Linked DNA regions of Homo sapiens: all the other regions are reported to be linked to region 6. The links are microRNA targets in miRTarBase. Many come from high-throughput screens and were not tested one by one. Region 6 holds a microRNA gene; each other region holds the end of a gene's coding sequence.
What was found. The annotated mature microRNA hsa-miR-372-5p reads CCUCAAAUGUGGAGCACUAUUCU and lies in region 6 at 3,727-3,749, opposite strand. An mRNA with a match to its seed (bases 2 to 7 or 8) in the 3' UTR can be bound and repressed. Matches are read on the target gene's strand: a 7mer-m8 pairs with bases 2 to 8, a 7mer-A1 pairs with bases 2 to 7 and ends in A, and an 8mer does both.

Region 1: miRTarBase lists VWCE as a target of hsa-miR-372-5p. Seed matches in the 3' UTR shown: 7mer-A1 at 4,515-4,521.
Region 2: the mRNA of CCSER2 is a reported target of hsa-miR-372-5p. Seed matches in the 3' UTR shown: 7mer-m8 at 4,456-4,462, 7mer-A1 at 3,580-3,586, 7mer-A1 at 3,451-3,457 and 8mer at 741-748.
Region 3: miRTarBase lists TLCD5 as a target of hsa-miR-372-5p. Seed matches in the 3' UTR shown: 7mer-A1 at 4,037-4,043, 7mer-m8 at 3,120-3,126 and 7mer-A1 at 2,369-2,375.
Region 4: miRTarBase lists LRPAP1 as a target of hsa-miR-372-5p. Seed matches in the 3' UTR shown: 7mer-m8 at 2,469-2,475.
Region 5: miRTarBase lists RHD as a target of hsa-miR-372-5p. Seed matches in the 3' UTR shown: 7mer-A1 at 1,184-1,190.

Annotation. Positions count from the first base shown.
Region 1 is chr11:61,253,903-61,258,970 of GRCh38, forward strand. It overlaps VWCE (von Willebrand factor C and EGF domains), which reads right to left. Exons shown (of 20, transcript NM_152718.2): 20 at 4,384-5,068. The coding sequence ends at 4,773. Among named protein-coding and RNA genes, the nearest start is that of PGA5, 15 kb to the left of the region's middle.
Region 2 is chr10:84,513,854-84,518,913 of GRCh38, reverse strand. CCSER2 (coiled-coil serine rich protein 2) reads right to left here. Exons shown (of 10, transcript NM_001284240.2): 10 at 397-5,060. The coding sequence ends at 4,647. Among named protein-coding and RNA genes, the nearest start is that of CCSER2, 190 kb to the right of the region's middle. RefSeq lists an enhancer at 4,332-4,501.
Region 3 is chr11:120,329,851-120,334,922 of GRCh38, reverse strand. TLCD5 (TLC domain containing 5) reads right to left here. Exons shown (of 3, transcript NM_001198671.2): 3 at 1,237-4,946. The coding sequence ends at 4,408. Among named protein-coding and RNA genes, the nearest start is that of ARHGEF12, 4.0 kb to the left of the region's middle.
Region 4 is chr4:3,508,841-3,513,912 of GRCh38, forward strand. It overlaps LRPAP1 (LDL receptor related protein associated protein 1), which reads right to left. Exons shown (of 8, transcript NM_002337.4): 8 at 1-4,196. The coding sequence ends at 4,134. Among named protein-coding and RNA genes, the nearest start is that of LRPAP1, 21 kb to the right of the region's middle. RefSeq lists an enhancer at 9-1,208.
Region 5 is chr1:25,328,077-25,333,140 of GRCh38, forward strand. RHD (Rh blood group D antigen) reads left to right here. Exons shown (of 10, transcript NM_016124.6): 10 at 822-2,369. The coding sequence ends at 848. It also overlaps a transcript of RSRP1 not described here. Among named protein-coding and RNA genes, the nearest start is that of TMEM50A, 7.7 kb to the right of the region's middle.
Region 6 is chr19:53,786,572-53,791,643 of GRCh38, reverse strand. It overlaps MIR372 (microRNA 372), which reads right to left and starts at 3,754; the gene lies at 3,688-3,754. It overlaps MIR371A (microRNA 371a), which reads right to left and starts at 3,969; the gene lies at 3,903-3,969. MIR371B (microRNA 371b) reads left to right here and starts at 3,902; the gene lies at 3,902-3,967. MIR373 (microRNA 373) reads right to left here and starts at 2,939; the gene lies at 2,871-2,939. It also overlaps LOC124904767.

The sequences.
Region 1 (5,068 bases), not on the chromosome of region 6:
TTTGTATTTTTAGTAGAGACGGGATTTCACCATGTTGGCCAGGCTGGTCTGGAACTCCTGACCTCATGATCCACCCACCTCGGCCTCCCAAAGTGCTGAGATTACAGATGTGAGCCACCACTCCCAGCCTCGGAAAGATCTTAAAAAGAGGGTAAGTTAAAAAAAAAAAAAAGTGAATTACAGCGATTTTGAGCCTCTGTAAGTTTGTCCTACTTAGAAACCTACCGTGACTTGCCTTCAGGCCATGCATCTAATAACCTTTAAAATCAGGTCTCTTGAAACAGGTCTGATCATTCTGCCCTTTGAGAAGCTGCCAGGTGCAAGGGAAACTGAGGCCACAGAATAAGCTTCCGACACACCCCCATTCTGTTCTGTTTCTCAGAACCCTAAAAGTGGAATCCTAGCTCAGGAAAAATGCAAGGTGTCTCCATCCAAGAACAAACACTCCCTTGCTTGTTGGAGCACAGGCTCCCGAGAATTCAGAGCAGCTTATCCCATTAAAGGCACTGCGCGCCCCGCTGGGGGCTTCAGGTGGACTCCTGCCTCCTGGTGCACTGCGGTTTACCGTGCACAGAACATGTGCTTACATGGCCCAGTGAGAGCCCTGACCCAGCCCTCCACCCATGGCTCCTGCACCTCTGCCCCAAGAGCCTTCTGGTGCCTGGGGACAAGCAGAAAGGCAGGCTCAGTACTATGGCAAGGCCAGCAGGGTGTGCTAGAGAGCCAAAAGCCCAGGACAAGGCTCGACCAGTGAGGGACGAAAGTTGAGGGACAACTACTGGTGCATCTTCACACCCTTGGGGGACAATCCTCAGGCAAGGCATGGGCTCCACAGTCTTCCAGAAGGTCCCTAGGACAAAGTGCCAATTGCCCATAGCTGCAACCGGCTCATCAATGCCCCTTGATTGGTCTTTTTCTCTTGGCTCTCACCCGAATACTATCTCTGGGTCTGCTTTAGGGGGAACCCAAACTAAAATAGTGTTCACAGGGCCCCTCCTAAACTGTGGGCCATCAGCTGTCTCTCCAAACACCAACAGGAGAACCTCATCAGGTGAAATGTGAAGCGAAGGAAAAACACCTGGACTGGGAGTCAGACGAATGAGGCTGTCTTCCCATTCAGCCGTCATAATCTGTGCAGCCTTAGAACACTCTCCTAACTTCTCTGAGCCTCTGCTTCTCAGCTGTAATATTGGGTGGGGAACAGTCCAGTTAAACATGTTTTTATACTCGGAAAAACTTGGGAAAAGTGTTTACAGCTGTCCCCCTGCCCCACCCCCAACCAATCTTTTTTTTTTTTTGAGATGGAGTCTCGCTCTGTCACCCAGGCTCTGAGTGCAGTGGTGCGATCTTGGTTCACTGCAACCTCTGCTTCCCAGGTTCAAGCGATTCTCCTGCCTCAGCCTCCTGAGTAGCTGGGACTATCGGCACATACCATCACGCTTGGCTAATTTTTGTATTTTTAGTAAAGATGGGGTTTCACCATATTGGTCATGCTGGTCTTGAATTCCTGACCTCGTGATCCGCCCACCTCAGCTTTCCAAAATGCTGGGATTACAGGCATGAGCCACCACACCCGGACTCCTTTTTTTTAAACATTCAAAATGAACATCATTGACATGAGTCCTATTTGCAGAGGCAGGTGGGGGGGACTAGTATTAAACTTAAATTGCATGCTAACTTATTGCATAAAGGAACAGCAATGAGGAAATTGGCACTAATTTTTAGCCACTACCATTTTGACAGATGGACTTGTTTGAAAAGTTGCAGCATGGGGGCAATGAGAATTCTACGCTTTTATCCTGAAATCAGACCCCACGTGGCATCACCAAGCCGGGTGGGCTGTAGCAAGTTTAGGGGCCACAGGGCCACAAGTGCAAACCACTGAGACTTATGGAGGCATTATCACACGTCATTGTCACAACTCCATAAAGTAGGCCTGTTATTATCCCCATTGTCCAAATAAGGGAGCAGAGGCCTGGCGCGGTGGTTCATGCTTGTAATCCCAGCACTTTGGGAGGCCGAGGCAGGCAGATCACCTGAGGTCAGTTTGAGACCAGCCTGGCCAACGTGGCGAAACCCCATCTCTACAAAAAATACAAAAACTAGCTGGGCATGGTGGCGTGTGCCTGTAATCCCAGCTACTCGGGAGGCTGAGGCAGGAGAATCGCTTGAACCTGGGAGGTGGAGGTTGCAGTGAGCCGAGATCATGTCACTGCACTCCAGGCTGGGTGACAAAGCAAGACTCTGTCTCAAAAAATAATAATAATAAGGGAGCAGAGACCTAATATCCCACAGCTAGTCCAGCTGAGCAAGGCTCCAACTTGAGATTCATTGGCTGCAGACCCCGCTCATGACCATGACCCTTTGTATCTTACTGGACAAAACGGCCTCTAAGTCCTTTGCCTCTCTAAACTGTTTGGTTTCCATGCTCCTATCTCCCACATTTATTATTCCTGCCACCAGCCGCAGGTTAGAGGCCAGGACTACACTGTCGTCTGGACTGGATACCAGGTTGCCTTTGCAGCCAGGAAACACTTCAGCAGACCCTTCGCCCTGGGACACAGAGTGAGTAGCAGGTCAGAGAAGGGCTCAGAAGAGGGCGGCCTCGGCAAAGCGATGGGCCATGCCCGGGGGTGCTTTCACTCCGCAGCCTCCATGGGTTTCAGTGGTAGCAAGTGTGGGGCTGCAGGCCCGTAATCCCAGTACTCAGGGAGGCTGAAGTGGGAGGATCGCTTGAGCCTAGGAGTTCAAGACCAGTCTGGGCAACACAGCGAGACCCTATTTCTACAAAATTTTTTTAAAAGTTAGACAGGCGTGGTGGCATGTGCCTCTAATCCCACCCACCCGGGAAGCTGGGGTGGGAGGAAGGCTTGAGCCCATGAGGTTGAGGCTGCAATGAGCCGTGATCATGCCACTACACTCCAGCCTGGATGACAGGGCAACATCCTGTCTCAAAAAAAAAAAAATGGTAGCAAGTGGTGACTTGGTGACAGAGCAGCTTCTGCTTTCCAGCCCCACATCACTTCCCTTATCACAAATCCGCATCCCCCCATTCATGACGGCACTGTCCTCTTTCCGTCTCTCATGCACACTGTGCTACACTGCCCAGATCCCCCCACTAGGACTGAAGGATCAGTCTCCCAGCTGCTGGGAAGGTGGTTGATAGCAGCTCTCTGGTCAATATGAGGCAGAAAGCCCTGCCCCGTAGCTCCAGCTCAGGACAGCTCCGAAGGGCCAGCCTAACCCCAGAGCTCCCAGAGGGGGCTGGCTGAGGCTTCGAGAAGGCCCAGCAGCCCCAACTCTCCCTCCCTGCTCCTTCCCCGCTGCCCACAGGTGTTCCTGCTGAAAACACGTCTTAAGAAACTGCTGGCCCGGCCCGGCGCGGTGGCTCAGGCCTGTCATCCCAGCACTCTGGGAGCCCAAGGTGGGCAGATCACCTGAGGTCAGGAGTTCGAGACCAGCCTAGCCAACATGGTGAAACCCCAACTCTACTAAAAATACAAAAAATTAGTCAGGTGTGGTGGCGGGCACCTGTAATCCCAGATACTCAGGAGGCTGAGGCAGGAGAGCCGCTTGAACCCAGGAGGCAGAGGTTGCAGTGAGCCAAGACCTTGCCATTGCACTCTAGCCTGGGCAACAAGAGCGAAACTCCATCTCAAAAAAGAAACTGCTGGTCTGTCATTTCGTCTCAGAGGTTCCTTCCCAGAAGCAAGTCCTCTCCATCATCTTTTCCCTTCTCACTGTGGAAGCCCCCCAGTGTCTGTATGGTATTCCATGGTGTACATACTATGCAGCCATAAAAAAGAATGAGATAATGTCCTTTGCAGGAACATGAATGGAGCTGGAGGCCATCATCCTTAGCAAAGTTACGCAGGAAGAGAAAACCAAATACCGCATGTTCTCATTTGTAAGTGGGAGCTAAATGATGAGAACACATGGACACATAGACACGAAAAGCACACACTGGGGTCTATGGAAGGGTGGAGGGAGGGTAGAGGGAGAGACTTAGGAAAAATAACTAATGGGTACTAAGCTTAATCCCTGGGTGATGAAATAATATAATCTGTATGACAAACCCCTGTGACACGAGTTTAACTATATAATAAACCTGCACATGTACCCCTGAACTTAAAATAAAAGTGAAAAAAAGAAAAAAGAAAACAGAAAAGAAAATCATGATCTTGGGGAAAAAAATAAAAAGAAGTCTCCCAATATAAAAGGCCGCCAAGTGCTTACAGGAGACCCTTCCCCAGCCCAGTCACAATTTGGTGCCAGCTTTTCTCCCCAGCAGTGGGGTAAAGGTGGATGCTCACTTACCACCTGTGGGCTTGGGGTCACGTTTCCCACCTTCCCACAGGTAAGCGGTGAATGAGCAGTGCAGCATGGGGAAACCGAGACAACCTTTAATCAGGAAACCTCAGAGAGACGCATGACACCTGGCGGTACAGTCCCAGTGAGTGGAATCCCAGCCGGACGCAACTCTTCCTCCAGGAGAACTTGGCAGTCCCAACCCTTCTCAAAAGATGAGCCAGCCACGCGGTCCAGGGAGGATGCTGACAGTGGAAACGACTTCCTCCATTCTTACAGCACATTCCAAACACTTCTTGGGAACAAGGTTACATCCAGCCTTGGGGGTCTTCCATCCTCACCAGGGCCCCTGCAGGAGGGAGCCCAGGCATCCCCACCAGGTTCATCCTTGGAGCTGCCCTGCACACACCCTGGGCCACTGGCAGAGGTCCTCTCTCCAGAGTCTCCCGGACACAGTGACCTCCTTACATGGTGGACTCTTCCCCCCGAGAAGCCCCCACTGGGGGCTGCTGGGGGCCAGGGTGGGTGGTGGCTGCAAGGGCTGTGGAGAGTCTAGAGGTGGTGGGAGAAAGCACGCGAGGCCCGAGGAGGGTGATGGGGGTCTTCGAGGGGCTGGGGTCCATCATGGAAAGTGCTGAAGCTTCCGTCAGGAGGGTGCCAGGCAGAGGAGGCCACCTGGACACTATCTGGGCCCCAGAGGCTGAGAACGAGCGCTCTGGAGTCACAGGAGGTGGCTGAGGAGCCCCTGGGGAAGCTAGAG
Region 2 (5,060 bases), not on the chromosome of region 6:
CTATTTTGTATACTGCTTAAAAACAATGACAAAATAATTAAAATTACAAGTGTTTTCTTCCTTGTACAGCATTCTAAATCCAAGGTGCTAATGTTTCTTGAAATGTCCATTAACCATTATCCCAATATTCTAAGATAAAGCAGGTATTTTATTACAATGGAAACGAAAGTACTAGATCTCTTACAGAATTTGTGAAGACACAACAACAAAATACTGATCAACTCCTACTCAATCAGGGCTTGGGGTGTCAAGATGTGTGTGAAGGCAGCATGTAAAATAAAGTATCAGAGTTGGGAAAAACATAAGCAAATGAACAGTATCTTAGATCTTTGTGGGAAAAAAGATATCAAAGAAAAAGCAAACTATGGGAGTCAATGTTGAGAAAGACAAGAGAACTTTTATAATTATGAACTTTATTTTTATTTACTATGCCAACATTTTCAGGAGAGACTTTACATCTGCTTTTTAGAATTCATTTTACAGGCAAATTCTAATATACAGTTTGTACTCTAAACTGACTTAAAATCAATGGGAAAAACAATACTGCAGATATTATTTTTGCTCTTTGTTAGTAATGACTTAGAGACCTTACATTCTCGGGTATTATTTTGTTAAGTAAACGCTTTACCAAGGAGAAAGTGGGTAAGCTTATTCCCAACAAGATTAAAACATGTATCTTCAGTTAATGACATAGTTGTAGATTGGTGCCCACCATCAGAATCATTTAATCAAAAGTACTCTCTCAAATTGCTGCAGCAAAAACTTAAAGGGAGATGTGAAAAATCACTAGAAAATAGAATTCAAGCATCAGAATTTAAAAAGGAACAAGGCCATCATCCCCAAGGAAAAACATCGGGTAGTACAGCTATAATTAATTTTCAAATGTGTGCTTAAGCATGCAAACATAACCACCCAAACGAATTTAAAAACACAAAAACTACTGGGTAAGATGGAAAGTAAATTGAAATGGTGCTGCAGCCTTATTGATCTTAATTGCAAGCCTGTTCGGTGATTTCAAAGTACATCCCCAGTGCCCTAGAGACCAGGAAACCAGTATGACAACTCTGCTCAGAAACCAAGAGTGCACCTCAGTGTCTGTAACACCATTTATGCTACAGGAACATTTGGAAGTGACAGCTGTAGGGGGATCACGCTCTCTCTGATGTACTGAGAAAAAAGTAAAATACTTATCGGAACAATGGAACATTCAAAGAAAACTTAGTGCTTTAATGGAAAAGTGACATGCTGGGAATATATTTCTGTGAACAGCTGTACTGATATCTTCAAACAGCAACAATTACAAATTTATTTCAACAAAGCCACACCCAATAGGAGGCAATTCGATATTTCAGGCACAACTTCAAGCAATTAAGCTCATTTAAAGTGCAAATCTGATATTTTCTTTCATATTCAGATTTTTACTTGTTAAAGTACTTAGTAAATTCTAATATATATATAAATACAATGAACAGTAGCCTATATGCCTGAAAATATTGCACAAATAAAAATGAGACTCCAAAAGAAAAATGTTAGATGGTCTCAGTTATTAGAAACAGTCTAAATGACATAACTCTATAATCCTTTAATGCCTTAAAATCATCTGCACCTGTACCAATAAACTCCTTAGGCCAAGCCTTCTTTTAAAAATTTGATATGCATCCCATTAACAGCCAAATATCAAAGTCTGAATACTCTACTAATTTCCTCTTTCACGAATGTGAAACTTAACAAACCCCATAAAATTTCTTCCTCAGGACTTAGAATTCATATACTGTAACTATCTTCATTGATACCACTAGAACTAAGACAATAAATGGTTTGTGGAGGAGGATTTGGCACAGAGTTGATTTACATTAATAGAAGCAATAAACACAGATCAAGCCAAATCTAAGATGATCTTTGATTATTCAGTAGAGTTACATCCTCACTTCCATTTCAGACTTAACATTTACTAAGAAGCAGACAAGCATGATATTCTTGCAGTTTTTAATGAAAACTGCAGGCAAATACTTTATGTCATGCAAGCATCCTAGATTTGTTTTCTTTTAATATATTATGCTTCATAAATATACGATAAGCCTATCTTCTAAAAGATTAAGACTCAACAAAGGTAGAGAAAAGTTGAGCTAATTGGTTAACATTTCTGCAAATCCATCAGGGAAGGAAAAAATAGAGAAAAATGGAGTAAATACATGGAGGAAAAAATAGAGAAAAATAAATTACTGGAGTCAACATTTTTATGTAATGGACAATAAAGACATTTCCCTCAGACTAGGGAATTAAAAATAAATTTAAAAATTTAGAACTTTTCCCTTAAGGATAAGGCCAACTCGTAAATAATGTTTCATAAGGGTCTAAACCAACTTCTAAATAAACCAAAAACCACTAAGTCACTGGTTTTACTTTAGGGGAATATAGTATGATTCACATATTTGCAACATGTGAGAACGGTTTTCTTTCTCCTTCAAAATGATAGAACATGTATGCCCACTTACAACTGCAGCCATCATGGGTCATCTCCATAACAAAGTGCTTTGCTGATTTGCCTGACTCTAACAGTATCTGGACTATGTGAAGAACGTTCTGAACTTCACTGCTTCTCCATCAGAAGTGCTGGTACATAAGAGTATGGTACAAGATTTGTCTTGCTCACCTCTTACCAAATCCAAGAATGGTTTCTATCCAGTGAATGGCAAATTCATCTGATAGGTAAGGGAATAATGGGTCAAAATGGTAGCAAACACTTCTTTCAAATTTCTACTAAAAGACTTGCTGTTGTTTTTCTTATAAAGGGGCAATTTCATCAACATACATCTTTTAAAGGAATCTCTAGAAATTTGAGTGACTTTTTGGCCATAATCCTGTTTGATATATTTTTGGTCAGCTGCTCAAAACAAACATTCTCCTTGTAAGGTTATCTATCTGAAAGATACTAATTCATTTAAAGCAGCTGCAGGTGAACAACCTAAAGATGACATGATTTGGGAGAAGAGGAAGGCAGATTTACTGAACTGACAAGTGACCCAAAGCATAATTAGGTTTGTGCACATGGTAGCATGGAGGTTCCACACCTACCTTCTACAGCGTATTAAAATAAGAATATTGTCTTTGAAACATCTTCTAGCACCTTTTTAATAAAACAAAATTTCCCATCTTCAATTCTATTTTTTTCCCAAATCTACCTTTAAAAAATTGTCTTTCAAAAATACACCATAGACGAGGTGGGTGGATCACTTGAGGTCAGGAGTTCGAGACCAGCCTGACCAACAAGGTGAAATCTCATCTCTACTAAAAATACAAAAAAATTAGCCAGGCATGGTGGCACATGCCTGTAGTCCCAGCTACTCAGGAGGCTGAGGCAGGAGAATCGCTTGAACCCGGGAGGCAGAAGTTGCAGTGAGCCGAGATTGCGCCACTGTAATCCAGCCTGGGCAATGGAGCAAGACTCTGTCTCAAAAAACAAACAGAAAAAAACAAAAAACACAGAAAAGGGAAACCTAGGAGACTGGAGATGGGGGAGGGGGAGAATATTATGAACTCCAGCTTTCTCAAGATAGTCTTATTTAAATTTGTTATTTTTCTCAAAATATTTTAACTTGTTTTGCTATAGAAAATAGTTTACAATCCCTATATATGGTATATTTATACCCCATCAAAGTTTTGTGCAAATGTTTCAAGTTCATTATTTCAGTCTTCAGATATTAGCAGAAAATCAATAAATATAAATATTACAATTAAAGACATAATGCTGTGGAACCTTAAAATGGCTATCATGGATCCACAAGCCTAAGGGTTCAAGCCTGAATTACCAGCAAAACTCTAGCACCAACATATGTTACAAATGAATACATCTTTAGGTACAGGTTTCAAGGTGTATCTCAAGCGCTCCAAAATTTACCCAGTAACAAATACAAACATAAATGGTATGTGTGTGTATATGTGTGTGTGCATGCACATGTGTTTGTAAAACAAGATGTAAAGGAATATATAACTGATTTATATGTAATAAGAAACACTTTCAGTCTGGGGAATTTGGGAAATGAATCAACAGTAACATTAGCTGACTGACCCTGGCAAGGAAAAATAAAACTTACATAGACTTTCCATTAAAAGCCTAATCTCCTTTATTCATCACAAAGCTTTTGCATAGACCTTTTAAATATACAAAACACTGGCCAGAACTCTGCTTACAGACTACCATCTTCCATTATCACCATATCTTTAGTTAAAATAGTAGCCATATTCACAGGAGAGACAAGTGAAAAGGGGTGAGGTTCTGACAACCACAATAAATACAGACCTTAATAGGACTAAACCAGCAAAGCACACTTCTTGCCTGCTCAGTAAAATATTATGAATTTTCTGACGTGGAGAGGGATGGATAACATGATTTGGGCCTTTGGCAGGCCTCTGAAATGGGTAAGCAAACTTTCGTGTTTACCTGAGATAATTATGCTCAAATGGCATGTACTTCAACCAGGATATAAAATGAAGGAGCCAAACTAGTAGAAGCTTCCACATTTTAATTTAAGATTTGCAGGCTTTCAATGGAACCTCCACCACAGTAGCAAGCTGCAAGCTGCACATAAAGCTATTACAGAAGAGATTGTTTTTAAGAAACAAATTGGCAGGTGATGGCTATGTACTTAATGTATCTTTGGTTTAGGAAGACGAGAATATCGATTAGAGGCCAAACAATCCCCAGAATGCAAATTGCCATTTGGATTCTGCATGATTTCTTTTCGTTGTGTTAGTGGCCTTGGGATGCTTGTCTTGGCCTGGAAGCTTTGAGGCTCTAGTTGGGGGCTGTTTGTTTGTTTTTGTTTGAAAGAGCCTGAGGGGGGGCGGAGCTTAGATGCTTTCAGATTCTGATTATTTGCAAGATTTGTTTGACTAGATGTTGGCTGAAGTTTTGCTGAATTACATGTTGTGATTATTGGTGACTTTTTACAAGTGGGAGTCCTACTTGGAGATGATTCAGAAACTGGAGGCGGTACCAAAGAACTCAATATGGATGGCTTTAAAAGCTGCAAGGACTTGGGCTGAGACATATAACCCAC
Region 3 (5,072 bases), not on the chromosome of region 6:
AACCGGAAGGAATCCCATTCATATATATATATATATATATATATATATATATATATATACACACACACACACATATACACATATACACACATATATACATATATACACATATATATACATATATATACACATATATATACACACATATATACATATATATACTGACCAAAATGCAAACCTTATCCCCAAACTTAATAAATCTTTCTTAAAAGTACTAAATATCTTATTTTCCCCTATCCTAATAATGTTACAGTGTAAGTATAAAATTAATTGAACCCAATGACTCATCAAATCATGCATTTTGGAGTTCCTCTCTTCCCTTAATACTTGAGGGAAGCCTCAATACTTAAGCTTCAGGAATAAAACAAACTGGGAAAGTTTCCTAATTCACCTTCTCTTCCTTGCATACAAAACCTCTTGGCAAGCTGCTTTCAAGATCTTTCCAAACTTAAACAGACCCACGGTTCTAGCTGTGAGCAAAGAAGGCATTTTGCTGTGGGAAAGCTTCAGAAGATGGTAAGCAAAAGATTGAATTAAGCCAGTGGTTATTCATTCCAGAACTAATTTTTTTAAATGATGAAAATCTCTATAGTCACCTACAAAGCATTAATGATTTAAAAAAAAAAAAAACTGAAAGCCTCTTTAAAGCTGCCGATAGCTCAACTGTTCTAAAGGCTGTAACTATAGGATGCCTTCAGAAAGTCAAGCCAGTCTGGGTAGAACACACTCCTCAGGGTCCGTAGTACTTTACTTAGAAAAATGACATTGATGACCCAATCCACTGGGAAAACCTTTGAGGAGGTTTTCCAATGGGGATGATTCTAAACCACATTCTCATCCTCTTGTCCATTCTTTCAACATGCTTACTAAGTATCTACTATGCATCCCAGACTGTTTTAGGCATTGGTAGTACAGTCCTCAAGACAGGGCCTCCAGCTGTCTTCAGATGATGTCTCTGATGTCAACTCACTTGACATCAACATTTTCAAGACAAGTGTCCAAACAGGTGGCAGAACAAGAAACACATTAAGGTTCTTCCTCTCTCTTTTGGCAAACTGTTTTGTGTATGTCAACTGTTACCCCCCAAAATAAAAAAAAATAGGGGGAATGATGGATAATGAACAGCAGATTAGAGATATTCACTAGTAAGTATGAATACAGGTCAACATTTCTACAGGTCAAAAGGCTTTTTTTAACTTCTTGGCAAAACCACCACATAAATATAAAGACAGACTCTGGGTTTATAAAAAGTTGTTTTACTTTTATAAAATTTAGTACAAATCTTATGGAAATATAAATCGTTCTTGAACAGTGTTCGTTATCATTACACAGTAATCCAGTGCAAATGAGTACTTCATTTTGTCCAAGTATACCACACATTAATTAGCCCTTCATTTACCTGTGGTTTCAGAACTTAGCATTGTCTTAACTGCTGAGTCATCTTCAGTTCACATTGTTCTCTCAGAAGTTTTTTCATAGTTATTAGTAACAACATCAAGAAAAGCTGAAATGAGGGATTCCCTTCCCCTTACCAATTATTCAGATTTCTCACCATTCAAAAAAACCTACATACAGTTCCATGAAAGTGTCCCCAAAACAACAAGATCTGCAGTCCCTTCACTTCTGAGGAGTAAGAGAGAAAAAGAATTGGTACCAGATTAAGCCTGTTCATTTGTCTGGTATGGAACAGGTTGCACTGTGCCAAAATTCAAGAGCCAGCTTTTTTTCTTTTTTTTAAGCTCATGTGCCAGGCCACTCTTTTCTACAAGCTTTTGCTAAAATCAGCATTCCCCAGCATCCTACTTTGACCGCAATTTTGTTGGAAAGAAGCTTACCAGCATTTTAGGGGCGCTCATCATAGAAAAAAAAAAAGTGGAGATTAAGAAAAAAAACAGGAAGTGGAGATGCTGTCAGATTATCTCAATGCCCAGCAAAACTCTTTAACCAAATGACATTCATTTTTAAAGACCCACTGTTAACATGCATTTAAAGTTACTGTTTCCCTAACAGTGATGACTTTATACCATTCCAACCACTCCCTCATACCTGGTTTCTGTGGCCAAGACCATTTTTCATTTTCAAGACCGCTCATGGCTGGGCACGGTGGCTCACACCTGTAATCCCAGCACTTTGGGAGGCCGAGGCGGGTGGGTCATGAAGTCAGGAGTTCAAGACCAGCCTGGCCAACATGGTGAAACCCCGTCTCTACTAAAAATACAAAAAGTAGCCAGGCATGGTGGCACACGCCTGTAGTCCCAGCTACTCGGGAGGCTGAGGCAGGAGAATCACTTGAACACAGAAGGCGGAGGTTGCAGTGAGTTGAGATCACACCACTGCACTCCAGCCTGGGCGACAGAGCAAGACTCTGTCTCAAACAACAACAACAACAACAACAACAACAAAAGACACCATTCATTACGTTAGATTACCAGTGGCCATGGAATGGACTGATGCTTCCTACTGACCAGCCTTGACTCCAGTAGCACCATATGCTTGCTCACCCACTGAGCTAATCAAACACCATTGACTTCAATAACATGGTAAAAATAAATAATCAATAAATACATAAATACTTCATATTTCCATAAAAGCCCTACATTAAAGACCTCCATTAATAAAATGCCACATAATGTATTTATGAAATATACTACAGGGTATTTCATTCATTCACAATAGGTTTAAACTCAGGCAAAGAAGAAACAAGTAACCTATCCAAAGTGAGTGAGTAGCTCTCCAAAGTGGCAAGTGAGTAGCAAAATTAGTTAAAAGAACCCAGGAATTCTGGATTCTTAACCCCTTGTTCTAAGCTTATATTCTTGCTTCTCTTGGAGACTGTCACACTAAGAATTATTATTTTTTTCCTTCCAAGACTGGCCTTGTTTTATTAGTTTGTTCATAGAGTGGTACCTTTTTAGTAAAAATAAGAAAAGTAGGAGGAGTACTAAAAGGGAAAGTATCTAAAATGAAAAAAAAAAATTAACCTCATCCCCCTGAGGCCAGTACACACTTTAAAGTCTTTGGCTCTAGTTTGCAATATGTACAGCAGAGCTGAAATCTAAACTGCCATCTCAAGCACAGTGGAATCCACATGATAAATCCCTATGGAATTTAGTCATAGCCTCAAATGCCTAGGAGATTAATGCACAAAAGCCCTGAGAACTGGCATAGTTTTCCTGGTAGGGCAGAACCCATATAACAGGACTCAGTAAATCTACCCACACTTCATTCATCTCAGATCCAAAGCCCTAACTCTATAGGTTTTGTGCAGAAAAGAGTTAACATAGCAGGCCTAAACTGCTATCCTTGGAGAGGCCTGATTACAGGGTTGGCCACTGGCCGGCATTTGGGAACTTAGATTTTGGAGGGGCTCCCACAATTAACTGATAAGACTGGCTTACTGTGTCTGAACTGCTTGTGCAAACAATATGGCTTATGCTGAACACCTGCTTTCCTTTTGAGAGTCTTGAATTTTGCTATCTGCCAGGGAAAGCCTGCCTAGATGACCTGTCCTCAGTAAAAACTTTGGGCACTGAGTCTGTAGTGACCTTGTCCAGTAGACAACTCATTCACATGTCGTAACAAATCACTGCTAGGGGAATTAAGTGCATCCTGTGTGATTCCATTGGGAGAGGACTCTGGAAACTTGTGCTTGCTTTACCCTAGACTTTGTCTCAGGTGCCTTTTCCTTTTACCGATTTTTCTTTGTATCTTTTCACTATAATAAATCAAAACTATAAGTAAGACTATATGCTGAGTCCACTGAGTCTTCCCAGAGAATTACAGAACCTGGCAGTGGTCTTGGGCACCTCTGGCACAGTTGGTATAGGAGGTTCAGTAAGTAGCCCTCCCCCTCACTGCCAGTTTCACTCTCACCCTCCTATGCCCCTCTGTTTAAGCGACCCAATTCCCCGATCTAATGTTCAGAATGTCAAAGGCGTGTCTCTTCCTGTAAGCCCCTCACTTTATAGTAAATGGGGTAAACTTAGATAAATTGCTATATGGAAAGCAGAAATAAGTGTTTATTGAAAGAGTTACTTCTCAAAGGAACAAGAAATAGCACTAATCTTTTTCGAGTTCCTTTCTAAACTGCCTGAACATCAAACCTCCCAGGGACAGGAGGACCCAGGGTCACCACAAATGAAAACAAATGCCAGTTGTACTCACTTCACAGTTCTCACTTATTCCCAACTACCATGGAGTATTCTCACTTTCTACAACTGTGCTACTGTAGAAGTTAGTGTTTTAATACTGGTATATGCTCGGCTTGAAGACTGACCAAATTGATCAATACATTTAGCCCTTTATTGAAACCTAAGTTTGTTATAAGTGTAATTATGTAACAGTCATATTTCCAACCTGGTTCCCATGGCTGACTTAACCCAATCCATAATCTGGAGCAAGCCTTGGCTAGTGTATTTTGAGATGTCCGTTGTGTTTCAGCTGCCGTTCCTCACTCCGCCTGCTTCTCCAAGCATGGTACTTCTTGATGCTCTTCCTCCATGCAAAGCGCCAGATGCTAAACATGAAACACCAAGACACAGCATACATCGCTACTCCCCCAGCCTTCACAAACCACTTAGGCGTGGGGGAGACCATTTCACAGAAAAGGAGGCAAGCTCCCACACCAATCCTCACTCCTGTGAACAGAGCCACAAAGAGGAAGTCCACTACATCTCCAGTGAAACTGTGATAGTGCCCTGTTTCCCGGAGAAACCAGCGCATCTGTAGCAAGGGGTTGGTAAGCTCACTTCCAAAGAGGACTGCATTGACCTCTGTGCCAGACTCCCCAAGCACAAGGGCCATGATAATGCCCAAGATACTCAATGTGTGATGAGCCAGCATCAAGGCACCCTCAGACTGAAAGTAGACGCACCAGCCCAAGTCGAAGATGAAGTAGCCCAAGGTGAGACACAGGACATGAACTTGGAGAGGTGTATTGGGTGAGCCTGAAACAAACCAAGACAGAAGCAAATTGAGTGACTGGGAATTGTGTTACCTTGCACAGGGATCCTATGTTGTTGTCTTTCAAACCTTACTAGACACTAAAGAAACAAAAACAATAGCAGGCACAT
Region 4 (5,072 bases), not on the chromosome of region 6:
ATGTTCACCGAGACTGGGAATAAGATTAGCGAGCGCCGGCTCACCTCACCAGTGCAGTGAGAAGCCGAGGCACAGACTGACAAGGGGAAGCAAAGCCACTGTCAGACAGAGGACACGCGTGTGCACACGGAAACCCCACGAGTCCACAGAAACACCGCCATGGCCAAGGCGGGAGTTTAGGGCACAGGATTAAAGCACCACGCACAGGTGACAAATGAAATAAAAATACACAGTCCTCAATAGCATATCGAACACCTAGGACTAGATCTAAAGGAAAACATGCCAGACACATGCACAGAAAACTCCAGTTCATTGTTGGGAGAAGTTGAAGATGAACTCAATACCTGGAGTCATACATGGCAGTCAACGCATGGACACCGGAGACTGTTGAGACGCCGACTGGAGTCACACACGGCAGTCAACGCGTGGACACCGGAGACTGTTGAGACGCCGACTGGAGTCACACACGGCAGTCAACGCGTGGACACCGGAGACTGTTGAGACGCCGACTGGAGTCACACACGGCAGTCAACGCGTGGACACCGGAGACTGTTGAGACGCCGACTGGAGTCACACACGGCAGTCAACGCGTGGACACCGGAGACTGTTGAGACGCCGACTGGAGTCACACACGGCAGTCAACGCGTGGACACCGGAGACTGTTGAGACGCCGACTGGAGTCACACACGGCAGTCAACGCGTGGACACCGGAGACTGTTGAGACGCCGACTGGAGTCACACACGGCAGTCAACGCGTGGACACCGGAGACTGTTGAGACGCCGACTGGAGTCACACACGGCAGTCAACGCGTGGACACCGGAGACTGCTGAGACGCCGACTGGAGTCACACACGGCAGTCAACGCGTGGACACTGGAGACTGCTGAGACGCCGACTGGAGTCACACACGGCAGTCAACGCGTGGACACTGGAGACTGCTGAGACGCCGACTGGAGTCACACACGGCAGTCAACGCGTGGACACTGGAGACTGTTGAGACGCCGACTGGAGTCACACACGGCAGTCAACGCGTGGACACTGGAGACTGTTAAGACACCGATTCTTCCCAACATGTATTCAAGACATTCAGAAAAGGTATTCAAAAATGCGTTCAAGGGAATTGCTATTGAAATTCCAGAAGGCATGTTTTTTTGGTAGAAATTGAGACACTGATTGTAAAACATATATGGAAACACCAAGGACATAAACAGCCACAAGAATCTTTAAAAAGAAGAGTTGGAAAATGCACATCACCTCGATTCAGGGTTTATTATAAACCCAACTGTAGCCAAGACAGTGTGGCGGCCGGGCACCATGGCTCACACCTACAACCTGTAATCCCAGTAGTTTGGGAGGCTGAGACAGGAGCATCACTTGAGCCCAGATCAAGACCTGCCTGGGCAACATAGTAAAACCCCGTCTCTACAAAAAAAATAAAAATAAAAAAAATAAAATCAGCCGGGTGTGGTGACACACGCCTGTGGTCGCAGCTACTACTCAGGAGACTGAGGCGAGGGGATTGCTGGAGTATGGGAGGTCAAGGGTGCAGTGAGCTGAGATCACGCTACTGCACTCCAGCCTGAGGGACAGAGCAAGACCTTGTCTAAAGTGTGGCAATGGCAAGAGCGTAAGGACAAACAGAAACAGACCCACACAGGTAGGTCAGTTGATTTCTGACAAAGGCGCCAAATTAGGAGAAAAAAGCCTATGCAGCAAATAATCTGAAAGTTAAGGGAGAAATGGATCCTGACTGCAACCCACACTGGAAACGTACACTCCTGAGTAGGGACTGGATACACACGCGGCACACACCCACACAACAGGCCGCCACGCGGCAATCAGGAGTCTGCCGCTGATCCACGCAAAAGCCTGGGTGAATCTCAGATGCTGAGCGAATGTAAGCAGATACACGCAGACATACACAGACGCACGCAAAGACACAGACTGCCCAGAGCCATGCACGTGGAACCCATGGCAGGCGGGAGGTAGGGAGCTGCGGTGGTAGGAGTCAGAATGGGTACCCCTGTGGGACTGGCTCTGCGGAGTGGAGGGCATCACCTACATCCTTCGTGAGTGCGCACCATGACCAGCCACACCCATGGAACTAACACTCGGTATCTGGGTTTTTTGTGTAACTGCCTCCCCTCAACACCATGGTCTCCCACATACAAAAGAGGCCATTATACAGTAAGACACGCTACTCCGCAATTAGACACCACAAAACGCCAGCCAGGCTGTCCATAATTAAAAATACCGAGCACCAAGTCTCAGCAATCCACTAGTGTTCTCCTTCCACCCAGCTGGGAGAAAGAAACACAGTCCAACCACTTTGGAATCATCTCTATACTTGGACAACACGCTTCGTAAGATCCATTAGGTGCTCCTAGAGTTGGCCCCCACCCCCACCCCCACACGAGTGTTCACCACAGCTATTTCCAAGTGAGTGTTATTACCCCAGAAAGGAAGCAACTCAAATATCCACCCACAATAAAGTGCATTAAAATCAGAGCACAGGACAGTCATGCAATGGAATACTATACAGCAATGAAAAGGAACACACTTCTGCTAGATGACAGGGCTGAGTCTCACCAACACACTGAGTACCTTAAGGCTCTCAGGATAATGGGAAAAAAAAGAACCAGAATCCACCCCCCGCCCCACCAGCCACACACACACAAGTCCACAAAGGAACAGGCACCCACATGCTGTACCCTGGGGCCCTTCCAACCCTGATGCGCCAACTCCCGACATGCTGCCTCTAGCCTTGACCTTTCTCAGAAATGATAGCTTAGCGGATGTTTGGCAGATCTCAACAGTCAAGCCAAGATCCAGCTGCAGTCAAAACACAATACGCCTGGTGGAGCCTCTTCCAGGTTCAAACACGGGAACCACGCTCGGAGCTGGACCCGGACCCGAGCCTCTTCCAGGCTCAGACACGGGAACCACGCCCAGAGCCGGACCCGAGCCTCTTCCAGGCTCAGACACGGGAAGGGAACCACGCCCAGAGCCGGACCCGAGCCTCTTCCAGGCTCAGACACGGGAAGGGAACCACGCTCGGAGCCGGACCCGAGCCTCTTCCAGGCTCAGACACGGGAAGGGAACCACGCTCGGAGCCGGACCCGAGCCTCTTCCAGGCTCAGACACGGGAAGGGAACCACGCTCGGAGCCGGACCCGAGCCTCTTCCAGGCTCAGACACGGGAAGGGAACCACGCTCGGAGCCGGACCCGAGCCTCTTCCAGGCTCAGACACGGGAAGGGAACCACGCCTGGAGCCAGACCCGAGCCTCTTCCAGGCTCAGACACAGGAACATTCTCGGAGCCGGACCTGAGCAACCGCCAGTCCATCAGCTATGGTCAGAGGAAGGCCTCCGTGGCTGTCTCTCCCCCATGAGATGGGGCATTTACACAGCACACTTAGGGACACGGAGGCCCTGCAGGTTTGGTGAGGTCTCCCGAGGTCCCTGAGCTGCAGAGGTGAGAGTTGAAAGACGCTGCCCCCAGGCCACAGTCTCTGACTGTCCACAGAACCACACGCTCCACATCTTCCCCTCAAACTCAACTCAAGCGCTCTTGGCTTTAAATCAGGCCGGGCCGTCTCACGGGAAAAGGAGGTTGGCTGCAAAGACCCACAGGGCCCAGAGGGGAAGCTGGCTATGACGCGATCCCTTCAAGAGCACTGGCTCCGGCCCCAGCCACCAGGACACTTAGTGACCAGCCAACAAGCGGGTGGTTTAAATACTGCACTCTATTTTTTAAGGACTCTGTGCATGGTATTTCCGGTGGCAGATGTGTAAGATTTTTTATGTAAATCGTGTTGTTTTAGCAGAGGACTATCAGACCTGACAGCAGCTGGACATCGAGGTCCTCACTGGGGTGGTGACTGCCACGCTGATGCTGAGTGGAAGCCAAGCCCCTTCAGTCAGAGCTGGGCCGATCTCAGACCCAAATGCTACCACCACCAAGCCCTGTGTCGCGACGGCAGCGGCTGCAGTCACCAGAAACAATCCTTCCTGCCTCGACACCCGTGCCAGCCCCAGCCACCCTGACGGCGGGCTGTCCACGGAAATGCCACGGCCAAGAGCCCAGGTCCTTCACGCTGGCCTCTTCCCTGCCGGGCTGGGCTCCCCAATGCCTTCAGAGTTCGTTGTGCCGAGCTCTGGAGATCCTGCCGGACAGGTCCTGCAGATGCTTCTTCACCTGTGGACAGAAACGTCTCATCAGCTGGGGACAGCGCGCCTCGAGGCCAGCTCTGTGAGCTCAGCCTCATGTCAGGAGACGCGCGATCCAAAAGGAAAAGGCGCAAGCCCTGCACATCTGACTTTCCAATTCCACACCCATCCAGAAATGCTCAAATCACAAAAGCAGCTCAGTACTAACTAGAAAATCCCACCAAAGAACGCTAAGAGCCACCAGCCAGGAGCAGTTCATGCTGAAGTGGAAAGCTCAGGGTCTCTGTGATAGGCCCATGGTGTTATTTATTTACTTACTGAAAGGGTCTCGCTCTGTCACCCAGGCTGGAGTGCAGTGGCATGATCTCAGCTCACTGCAACCTCTGCCTCCCAGGCTCAAGTGATCCTCCCACCTCAGCCTCCCATGTACTTAGGACTACAGGTGCCCACCGCCACGCCCGGCTAATTTTTTCTACTTTTGGTAGAGATGGGGTTCTACCATGTTGCCCAGGCTGGTCTCGAACTCCTGAGCTCAGATGATCCACCCACCTCAGCCTCCCAAAGTGCTGGGATTACAGGTGTAAGCCACTGTGCCCAGCCCCACAGTGTTATTTTTAAAAGCAATGACCAGAGAGACTGGGACAGAGCTCTGGGAAAGGCGCCTTCCTCCTCAGGGCCTGGGAGGGAAGGAGAGGGACCTCCAGCTCCTCACATCACAACAGCCCAGAGCATCCCCACAGATACCACCCCAGTGGCAGCAGGTGCTGCGTCAGCCCAGCCTGGGCTGGGGTCACTGTAGCTCTCCCCAGATTCTCACAAAACCCTGCTCGTGGGCGCCACCTCCCTCTCCACATAGAAGCCCGTGGCTCAGGGTGAATAACTCACCGAAGGTCCCTTCTCTCAG
Region 5 (5,064 bases), not on the chromosome of region 6:
CCACATGCAGTGACGTTGTATGGTAGGCTGTGGTGTGGCACCACTTCAGAACTCAGCGCATGCACAGCTTGCAGAAGAGAAGGCCAGAGGAGACCTAAGAAGGCTCTTCGAACACTTGAAAGACCGGCATGTAGGCCGGGCGCAGTGACTCACGCCTGTAATCCCAGCAGTTTTGGAGGTCGAGGCGGGTGGATCACCTGAGTTTGGGAGTTTGATACCAGCCTGACCAACAAGGTGAAACCCCGTCTCTACTAAAAAATACAAACATTAGCTGGGCATGGTGGCGGGTGCCTGTAATCCCAGCTACTCCGGTGGTTGAGGCAGAATTGCTTGAACCCGGGAGGCAGAGGTTGCAGTGAGCTGAGATTGCATCACTGCACTCCAGCCTGAGACAAGAGCGAAACTCCATCTCAAACAAAACAAACAACCAACCAAACAAAACCAAAAAAAAAACTGGCATGTAGAAGAAAAATACTTTTTCTCTACACTTCTCCAAAGAATTTAACTAGGCCCAGGGGAGGTGCAGTATAAATTTCTAACAATCTCAACTGTCTGCCAAATGGAATGAGCTACTTCATATGGCAGTAGTGAGTCCTCTGTCTTTGGAGGCATTCAAATAAAAGCCAGATGGCCATTTATCAACAATCCATGTAAAACGTTAGATGAAATAAAACCTATATATCCAAGATCTCTTCCAATTCAGATTTTATGAAAGAATTTCTAAGGTCTTTGTAATGAGACATTTAGGCTGTTTCAAGAGATCAAGCCAAAATCAGTATGTGGGTTCATCTGCAATAAAAATGTTTGTTTTGCTTTTACAGTTTCCTCATTTGGCTGTTGGATTTTAAGCAAAAGCATCCAAGAAAAACAAGGCCTGTTCAAAAACAAGACAACTTCCTCTCACTGTTGCCTGCATTTGTACGTGAGAAACGCTCATGACAGCAAAGTCTCCAATGTTCGCGCAGGCACTGGAGTCAGAGAAAATGGAGTTGAATCCTTTCTCTGCCACTCTTTGAGGAGAATCTCACCATTTATTATGCACTGTAGAATACAACAATAAAATACAGCCATGTACCACATAACAACATCTTGGTAAACAACAGACTGCATATATGATGGTGGTCATCCAGTAAGCTAAGGTTAATTTATTATTATTCCTTGTTTTTTTTTTTTTTTTTTTTTTTTTGAGATGTAGTCTTACTCTGTCACCCAGGCTAGAGTGCAATGGCACCATCTTGGCTCACTGCAACCTCTACCTCCTGGGTTCAAGCAAATCTCCTGCCTCAGCCTCCAAAGTAGCTGGGATTACAGGCACCCACCACATCTGGCTAATTTTTTGTATTTTTAGTAAAGATGGGGTTTCACCATGTTGGCCAGGCTGATCTCAAACTCCTGACCTCAAGTGATCTGCCCGCCTCGGCCTCCCAAAGTGCTGGAACCACAGGCCTGAGCCACTGTGCCCAGCCTTGTTTGCTTTTTTAACAGATAACAGTGTGCTCATAGAAACTGCTTTGACATGACTGCAATCATGTGCTTCATAGAAACTTAATTAGATTATACCACTAGAGTCTTCAGATTTTTATACTTTTTTTTTTTGAAACGGAGTCTCACTCTGTCACCAGGCTGGAGTGCAGTGCCGCAATCTCGGCTCACTGCAACCTCCGCCTCCCAGGTTCAAGCAATTCTCCTGCCTCAGCCTCCCGAGTAGCTGGAATTACAAGTGCGCACTACCACACCCAGCTAATTTTTGCATTTTTACTTGACAGGGTTTCACCATGTTGGCTAGGATAGTTTCACCAGGATCTCTTGGCCTCATGATCAGCCTGCCTCGGCCTCCCAAAGTGCTGGGATTACAGGTGTGAGCCACCGTGCCCAGCCTATACTTCCCTTTTTGAATACCATTTGGTGTTTTGAAGAATTAACAGCTTTGTGAACGTGGCAGTGCTTGTGATTCAGGCTTCCATTGAGACCAAGGGGAGAACCTGGTTGCAGGACAAACAGACGGACAGCGTGTGGCAGTGTTTAAATGCTCTTCTGAAGGCTGATACGACAGCTCTCTGTGCACTGATTGCATATGCATCCCAAGATTATATTATTGTTTTCTACTGCTATGTGTCACACTTTGCCAAACAGGATGTGGAAAATGAATAAGCGGTTTTCTTAGGCACTTCTTAACAGACAATTGGTCAAAATGAACTCCATTGCTTAAGAAACACATAAACACCATTTAGTCACTGAACATAGCTATATGTATGGTTGTTACTATGGGAAATCTTGTTTTGCCAATTTTCTTTGAAAATTCTGGCAGACCAAGGTTCTTTTTGTTTACATAATACTTGAAAAATAAAAATGAACAAGCTAACAAACTACCAAGTTTTCACTTACATAAATGTAGTTGCATACAGAAAATGTGACTGTGAATTAATTTTTCTAGGACTTTTAAACTATAAGCACTATTTGCACAAAAGAGAACCAATCTATCAATTACAAACTCACATAATTTTACAGATTTTTTTTTTCCTACACAGCACATAAAACAGAAGGAATTTGAAGCCACCCTCCAAACACAGGGGAAGGAGGCTGTGTGTATATCCTCATTGTCTTTCACATTCTAAGGTGGTTCCACTCAGTGACTGAAATCCTTAAGCGTTGTATTAGTCTGCTTGGGCTACCATAACAGCAGCTTAAACTGTTGTTTAGCCACTCAGACTTAAACAACAGAAATTTATTTCCTTATAGTTCTGGAGGCTGGAAGTTCAAGGTGCCGGCAAGGTTGGTTTCTGGTGAGACCTCTCTCCCTGTCTTGCAGATGGCTGCCTCCTCCCTGTGTCCTCATAGAGCCTGTCTTCTGCTTTTACACTTCTGGTGTCATCTTCCTTTTTTTTTTTTTTTTTTTTTTTTTTTTGAGACAGAGTCTCGCTCTATCGCCCAGGCTGGAGTGCAGTGGCCCGATGGATCTCGGCTCACTGCAACCTCTGCCTCCCAGGTTCAAGCAATTCTCCTGCCTCAGCCTCCCAAGTAGCTGGGACTACAGGTGCCCACCATCATGCCTGGCTAATTTTTGTATTTTTAGTAGAGACAGGGTTTCACCATATTGGCCAGGCTGGTCTCGAACTCCTGACCTTGTCATCTGCCTGCCTCGGCCTCCCAAAGTGCTAGGATTACAGGCGTGAGCCACCGCACCCGGCCTCTTCCTCTTCTTATAAGGACACCAGTCCTATTAGATTAGGGCTCCACCCTCATAACCTCATTTGACCTTAACTATTATTTCTTTAAAGCACCTATTTCCAAATATAGTCACTTTAGGGGTTAGGGCTTCAAAAGATGAATCTGAGGGAGCTCAATTCAGTAAATAGCAGTAGTCATTAATGGACAATGTATACAAAGATAATTTCGTGATTACTGTCCTTATGCATAAACGTCCTCAGTGTTCCACTGCGTTTATCCAGATTTAGTATCACAAAGACTTTGCTCTGAGAAAAATGTGATTTTTTTTTTTTTTTTTTTTTGAGACAGAGTCTTGCTCTGTCACCCAGGATGGAGTGCAGTGGTGCAATCTCGGCTCACTGAAACCTCCGCCTCCCAGGTTCACGCCATTCTCCTGCCTCAATCTCCCGAGTAGCTGGGACTACAGGCGTCCGCCAAGATGCCCAGCTAATTTTTTTTTTTTTTTTTTTTTTTGAGACGGAGTCTCGCTCTGTTACCCAGGCTGGAGTGCAGTGGCGCGATCTCGGCTCACTGCAAGCTCCGCCTCCCGGGTTCACGCCATTCTCCTGCCTCAGCCTCCGGAGTAGCTGGGACTACAGGCGCCCGCCACTACGCCCGGCTAACTTTTTTGTATTTTTAGTAGAGACGGGGTTTCACCATGTTAGCCAGGATGGTCTCAATCTCCTGACCTCGTGATCCACCTGCCTCAGCCTCCCAAAGTGCTGGGATTACAGGCATGAGCCACCGCGCCCAGCAGATTTTTTTTTTTTTTTTTGAGATGGAGTCTTGCTCTGTTGCCCAACCTGGAGTGCAGTGTTATGATTTTGGCTCACTGCAACCTCTACCATGTTCAAGCGATTCTCCCACCTCTGCCTCCCGTGTAGCTGGGATCACAGGCACACGCCACCACACCTAGCTACTTTTTGTATTTTTAGTAGAAATGGGGTTTCACCATGTTGGCCAGGATGGTCCCGAACTCCTGACCTCAAGTGATCCTCCTGCCTCGGCCTTCCAAAGTGCTGGGATTACAGGTGTGAGCCACTGTGCCTGGCCAAAAATGTGATTTCTTATTTCCCACATTGCCAATTCCATTTCAATTAACTATAATAGCTATGTCTATTGAGCACTCAAGCGTATTCTAGAAACTGTTCCTGATTCTGGGGATATATCCATGAATGAACTATAGTCCCTGTTATTAAGTAATCCGTAGTCTGACTAAACCATTAGAAATTAAAAAAAAATGGCTACTTTCAAAGACATCTTGGAGTTCAGGAGTCCCACACTGCGAACCATATTACCTAATAATCCAACCTGCTTGTAATTCACTTATTTAACCAATATTTATTGAGTGCCAACTTTGAGCCTAAGATACAGCAGTAAACAAATGCATAAAGTCCCTGTCCCCATGAAACTTGTATTCTAATGGAAAAAACAGAAAACAAACAGATATAGGATGTAATATCAGGTAGGGATAAATACTTTGAATTCAAACAAAAGTATACGTAGTCAGGGTTCCCCAGAGAGACACAGCCAATCGATACATAGATATATAAGAGAGGGTTTATGAGTTAGAAAGGGCTCACATGATTACAGAGGCTGAGAAGTCCCACAACAGATTGTCTGCAAGCTGGAGACCCAGGGATACTGGTAGCATGGCTCAGTCCAAGTCCCAAAGTCTCAGAATCAGGAAAGCTGATGATATAATTCTTAGCCCAAAGGCCTTAGAACCCCAGCGGTGACGGAAAGGCTGGTGTAGGTCCTGGCGTCCTGAGACCCAACAGCCTGGGATCCTGAAATCCAAGGGCAGGAATGGAAGCGTGTATTCCAGCTCCAAGAGAGTAAGACCAATTTGCCTTT
Region 6 (5,072 bases):
TTAAACTATGTCACTGCCCGGTGGGAAATCAGGTCCCCATGCTGTGCTCAGCCCACACACTGGAGATCTACAGACCAGAACCTGCAAGGAGACTGAGGCAGTTTCAGAAAAAGTGACCTTACAACTCCAGAGATCAGATACTGATTCAGTCCTGTAGACATAATTGTCCCATTGGCCAGGTGCAACAGCTCATGTCTAATTCCAGCTCTTTAGAAGGCCAAGAATTTTTACACCAACCTTAAGGTGCCGCCTGAACACAAAAAAATTATCTACTCTATGTACTACTATCTATCTACCCCAGAAGGGGTATTCATGCATAGACCCAGCTACTGAAGCTGAGGAAAAATGCTTGAGTCCAGGAAGTGGAGGCTACACCTAGCTCGACAGAACCGCTACATTCCAGCCTAGATGACATGATCGTCTACAAAAAAGAAACTAAAAATGGCCCACCATTACCACGTAAAACTGTGCCTTAAGCTTTCTGCAATCCCAGCACTTTGGGATAAGAGATTGTTTAGGTTTCAAGACCAGATTGGGCAACATAGTGGGATCCTATCTCTAAATTTTTTAAAAAGTTATTTACCCAATATTCTTTATATGTCTGCATTCAGTCCTGTTTCCACAGCTGCTTCTGAAGCAAACAGCCCTGCTTACAAACCACCCCCACCTACACCCTGCTGGCCATACAGGCTAAACCCTAAACAAGCTTAAGAAACTCAACTAAAGGCTGGGCGCAGTGGCTCAAACCTGTAATCTCAGAATTTTGGGAGGCCAAGGTGGGTGGATCACTTGAGGTCAGGAGTTTAGTGAGACCAGCCCGGCCAACATGGGGAAACGCCATCTGTACTAAAAATCCAAAAAAAATTAGCTGGGCATGGTGGTGGGTGCCTATAATACCAGCTACTCGGGAGGCTGAGGCAAAAGAATCGCTTGAACCTGGGAGGTGGAAGTTGCAGTGAGCCAAGATCATGCCATTGTACTCCAGTCTGGCGACAGAGCGAGACTCCATCTCTTTAAAAAAAAAAAAAAACAAAAAAAAAAACACAAAAACAAAAAACCCTCAACTAACAATCCCCAAGCTGCCCGTAGAAAAGATGACAGGAGGCCCAGGTAGGTCAAATATAAAGAGAAGTCTTACTGGTTACCGTGGCGGACTCCCCACCAGTGGTGGCGGTATTGGGACAGAGGCTACAACTGCTTTATGAATTGCGGGTACAAATAGCAAAACAAAACTCCCTTGAATTTGAGATCTTACTTCAGTTCAGATACTGTGGAGTGGGCAAAGCAGCCGCAAGGGTTTGGAACACCTACAGGGGATAGGAAAACTTACAGGGGATAGTGGCCAGCAGACCCGGAAACCAGTGATAGGGCAAACAGCAACTAAGAACCTACTGAAGGCCCCACGTGGTGGCTCACGCCTATAATCCCAGCACTTTGGGAGGCCGAGGTGGGTGGATCACCTGGGGTCAGGAGTTCCAGAGCAGCCTGGCCAACGTGGAGAAATCCCATCTCTAAAAAATGCAAAAAATTAGCCAGGCGTGGTGGCTTATGCCTGTAATCCCAGCTACTTGGGAGGCGGGGGCAGGAGAATCGCTTAAGCTGGCAGAGGTTGCAGTGAACCAAGATTGCGCCATTGCGCTCCAACCTGAGCGAGAGCACGAGACCATCTGAAGCAAAAAAACCTTCCAAATATGAACTTAGGCCTGGCACTGTGGCTCACACCCATCATCCCAGGGAGGCCACCCAGGGCAAGACAGTAAAGCCCCATCTCTACTAAAGGAGGGATGTTTGATTCCCCCTAAGTTTCAGACCAAGCTGGCCAATGTATGAGACCCCAATTTCTACTAAACATTAGTGGAGCATGGCGGGGACACTCCTGTGGTGCCAGCTACTAAGGGTGGGGTGAGGGGGGGCTTATATGGGAAGATCTTTTGATCTAGGGAGCTCAGGCCTGCAGGGAGCTGTGATGGTGCCACCACACTTCAGCCTGGGTGGTTTTTATTTTTTGAGACAGTTATCGCTGTCACCCAGGCTGGAGTGCAGTGGCACAACCTCGGCTGGCTGCAAGCTCCACCTCCCGGGTTCATGCCCTTTCTGCCTCAGCCTGTGACTACAGGCACCCACCGCCATGCCCGGCTAATGTTTTTGTATTTTTTAGTAGAGATGTGGTTTCACCGTGTGAGCCAGGATGGTCTTGATCTGACCTCATGATCAGCCTGCGTCGGCCTCGGCAGTGCTGCCACTGTGCCCGGCCTTACTTTTTAAACTTGTTTGAAGTTTAAAGAGCAGAACTCTCAAAGAGCATAACTCTAAGTTCTAGCAGGGGTAGAAGGGAAGCACAAAATACTGACAAGTATTTTTAGGCAATGTACTTGGGTCATAGAAGAAGGTTCAGTAACGCCAGACATGAGGCTCATGCCTGTAATCCCAGCACTTGTGGGTGGCAGAGGAACCCAATAGACCAGAAACACATGATGTTGTTCACATTTTATTAAAAAAAAAAGTTAGGAAAAGTGAGACTGTGGCATTGTCCGTGTAGCAGGGTGGAAGCACTCCAGCCCATGCTCTGGCCAAACCCACTTCAAGCCTTACATGCATGCTGCCTACCAAATTCAGGAACAGGACCCCAAATTCCCTTTAAGGCCAACCAGATTCCCCCGACACCCCATCAAGCTTTTCCTGCCCTGTTCATCTGCAGGTGAACCCCGTATCCTGCCCACCCCAGAATATGCCAATTTTTATTATCTAAAATGGAGCATACAGACTGGTGCCCCGCAGAGAAGCCCGGGAACTCCAGGTCATAGCTGAAGCTGCAGTCAGACCCGCAGGCTCCCTTGAAGCAGGATGGTTCGTGATGCCCTACTCAAACAGGGACACCCCAAAATCGAAGCACTTCCCAGTACAGACAAAAAGGAAAGCGCCCCCATTTTGAGTATCCCAGTATGAGCTCCTCGCGAGGATCTGCCATCACTGTGACTTTCTTGCCTACAAGAGGTTGGCCTCCAATCATCCAAGCACATGTTAAATGTCAGCAATAAACTTGCTTGCTATGGGGGAAGAGGAAAGTTACATATCAATTATAACACCAACAGCAAAAAGCATTCCTTTCTTTGTGCATACAGCCCCTTGGTCACAGCTGCTGTTTTTTTTTTTTTTTTTCTTTGAGAATGAGTCTTGCTCTGTCGCCCAGGCTGGAGTGCGGTGGCGCGATCTCGGCTCACTGCAAACTCCGCCTCCCGGGTTCACGCCATTCTCCTGCCTCAGCCTCCCAAGTAGCTGGGACTACAGGCGCCCGCCACCACGCCCGGCTCATTTTTTGTATTTTTAGTAGAGACGGGGTTTCACCGTGTTAGCCAGGATGGTCTCGATCTCCTGACCTCGTGATCCGCCTGCCTCGGCCTCCCAACGTGCTGGGATTACAGGTGTGAGCCGCCGCGCCCGGCGCAGGCGCACAGCCGCCCTCTGAACCTTCTCTTCCTTTCACCATCTAACCCAGATTCCCTTAGTTGTGTCAGGTGAGAGCCCAGGAGGCCCCCTTCCCTTCCCCAGGTTTTCCGGAGCCATTACAGCCAGACGCTGTAAGGGACCTGTACCCAAGACAGTTTCCGGCTGGGAATCGAAACCACAGGCTCTTTAGTTCCTGCAGAAGACCGAGCTCCACGGCATCCGTTGATATGGGCGTCACCGGTGACGCTCAAATGTCGCAGCACTTTCCACTTGGACATCAGAATAGTGCTCCACATTTGAGGCCCACAGGGTGAGCAGCTCCATCTGCAAGAGCCCCGGCCAAGAAATTTATATCACGAGGAAACGGCCATAGGCAGGGTCTAGGGCCATCCTGCTACCCGCCCCCTCACCCAATCAAAATGGTATCTTCTCCGCAGGTTGAGTCTTCTCAAGCGGTAACACTCAAAAGATGGCGGCACTTTCACCAGAGAGCAGAAAGTGCCCCCACAGTTTGAGTGCCACAGGCTGAGGGGATGCGGCAAGGCGGCGATCGCAAGTGGAAGCACTTACCCATCAGAAGAGGCTTTTAAGCAAGGAGGTGGAGAGTAGCCCTTGATGAGCTGTTGAAGGTCTACAAAGCACGAATTTAACGACCCTTTCTTAAAAAGTAAAAAACAAGGCTTTCCACGTATAGATATTCAAAGCACTCCCCCGCCCATAGCCTCCAGATGCAAGCCATGAGGACTGAGTACAATGCAAGTAGGAAGGAACACGTGTGAGGGACAGTGGGGCCTTCGTCCTTAAGACTGAAAAAAAATCACAGAAATAGAACAAAAGTACAGCCCGGCTGGGCGGAGTGGCTCAAGCCTGTAGTCCCAGCTACTCGGAAGGCTACGGTGGTAGGATTGCTCTTGAGCCCAGGAGTTCGAGACCAGCTTGGATAACATAGAAAACCCCATCTCTCCTAAAAAAAAAAAAAAAAAAGCAGAAAAACGCACATGGGAATGGTGGTGCGCGCCTGTGGTCCCAGCTACTGGAGGCTAAAAGGGTGAGTCCCAGGAGGTCGAGGCTGCAAGGCGCCATCATCCTACCTGTGCACTTCATCCTGGGCGACAGTGAGATCCTGACCCTAAAAAATAAAGTAAAATGAAAGAAAATAAAATAACATAGCAATACTCACAGAGGCCAATGATACGTCCACACCTCAGGTCTGCCAGAAAGAACAAGGTTCACTGCAGCTGCGTTCTTATATAGGGTGAGAGCCCACTCAACTTTGATAGGATTAAAGCCCACCCCTTCCCACCCTCTCATTCCCCCTGGTCTCCGCCCCAAGCCACCCTGCTCCCTTTGATCCTAGCTTGCCTTAGTCAGACACACCTTCATAAACTTTTTCAAACACTGATTCAAATAGAAATTAGGTGATCCCTATTACTAGTAACGCCAACATGTATTCGTTATAAATACATTGGAAAACACAGAGAAATAACCAGAAGAAAATCATTCCACCAGTCATCCACTCAACAAATATTTAAATATAGTATTTTGGCAGAGCGCAGTGGCTCACACCTGTAATCCCAGCACTTTGGGAGGCCGAGGCGGACGATCACTTGAGGCCGGGAGTTCGA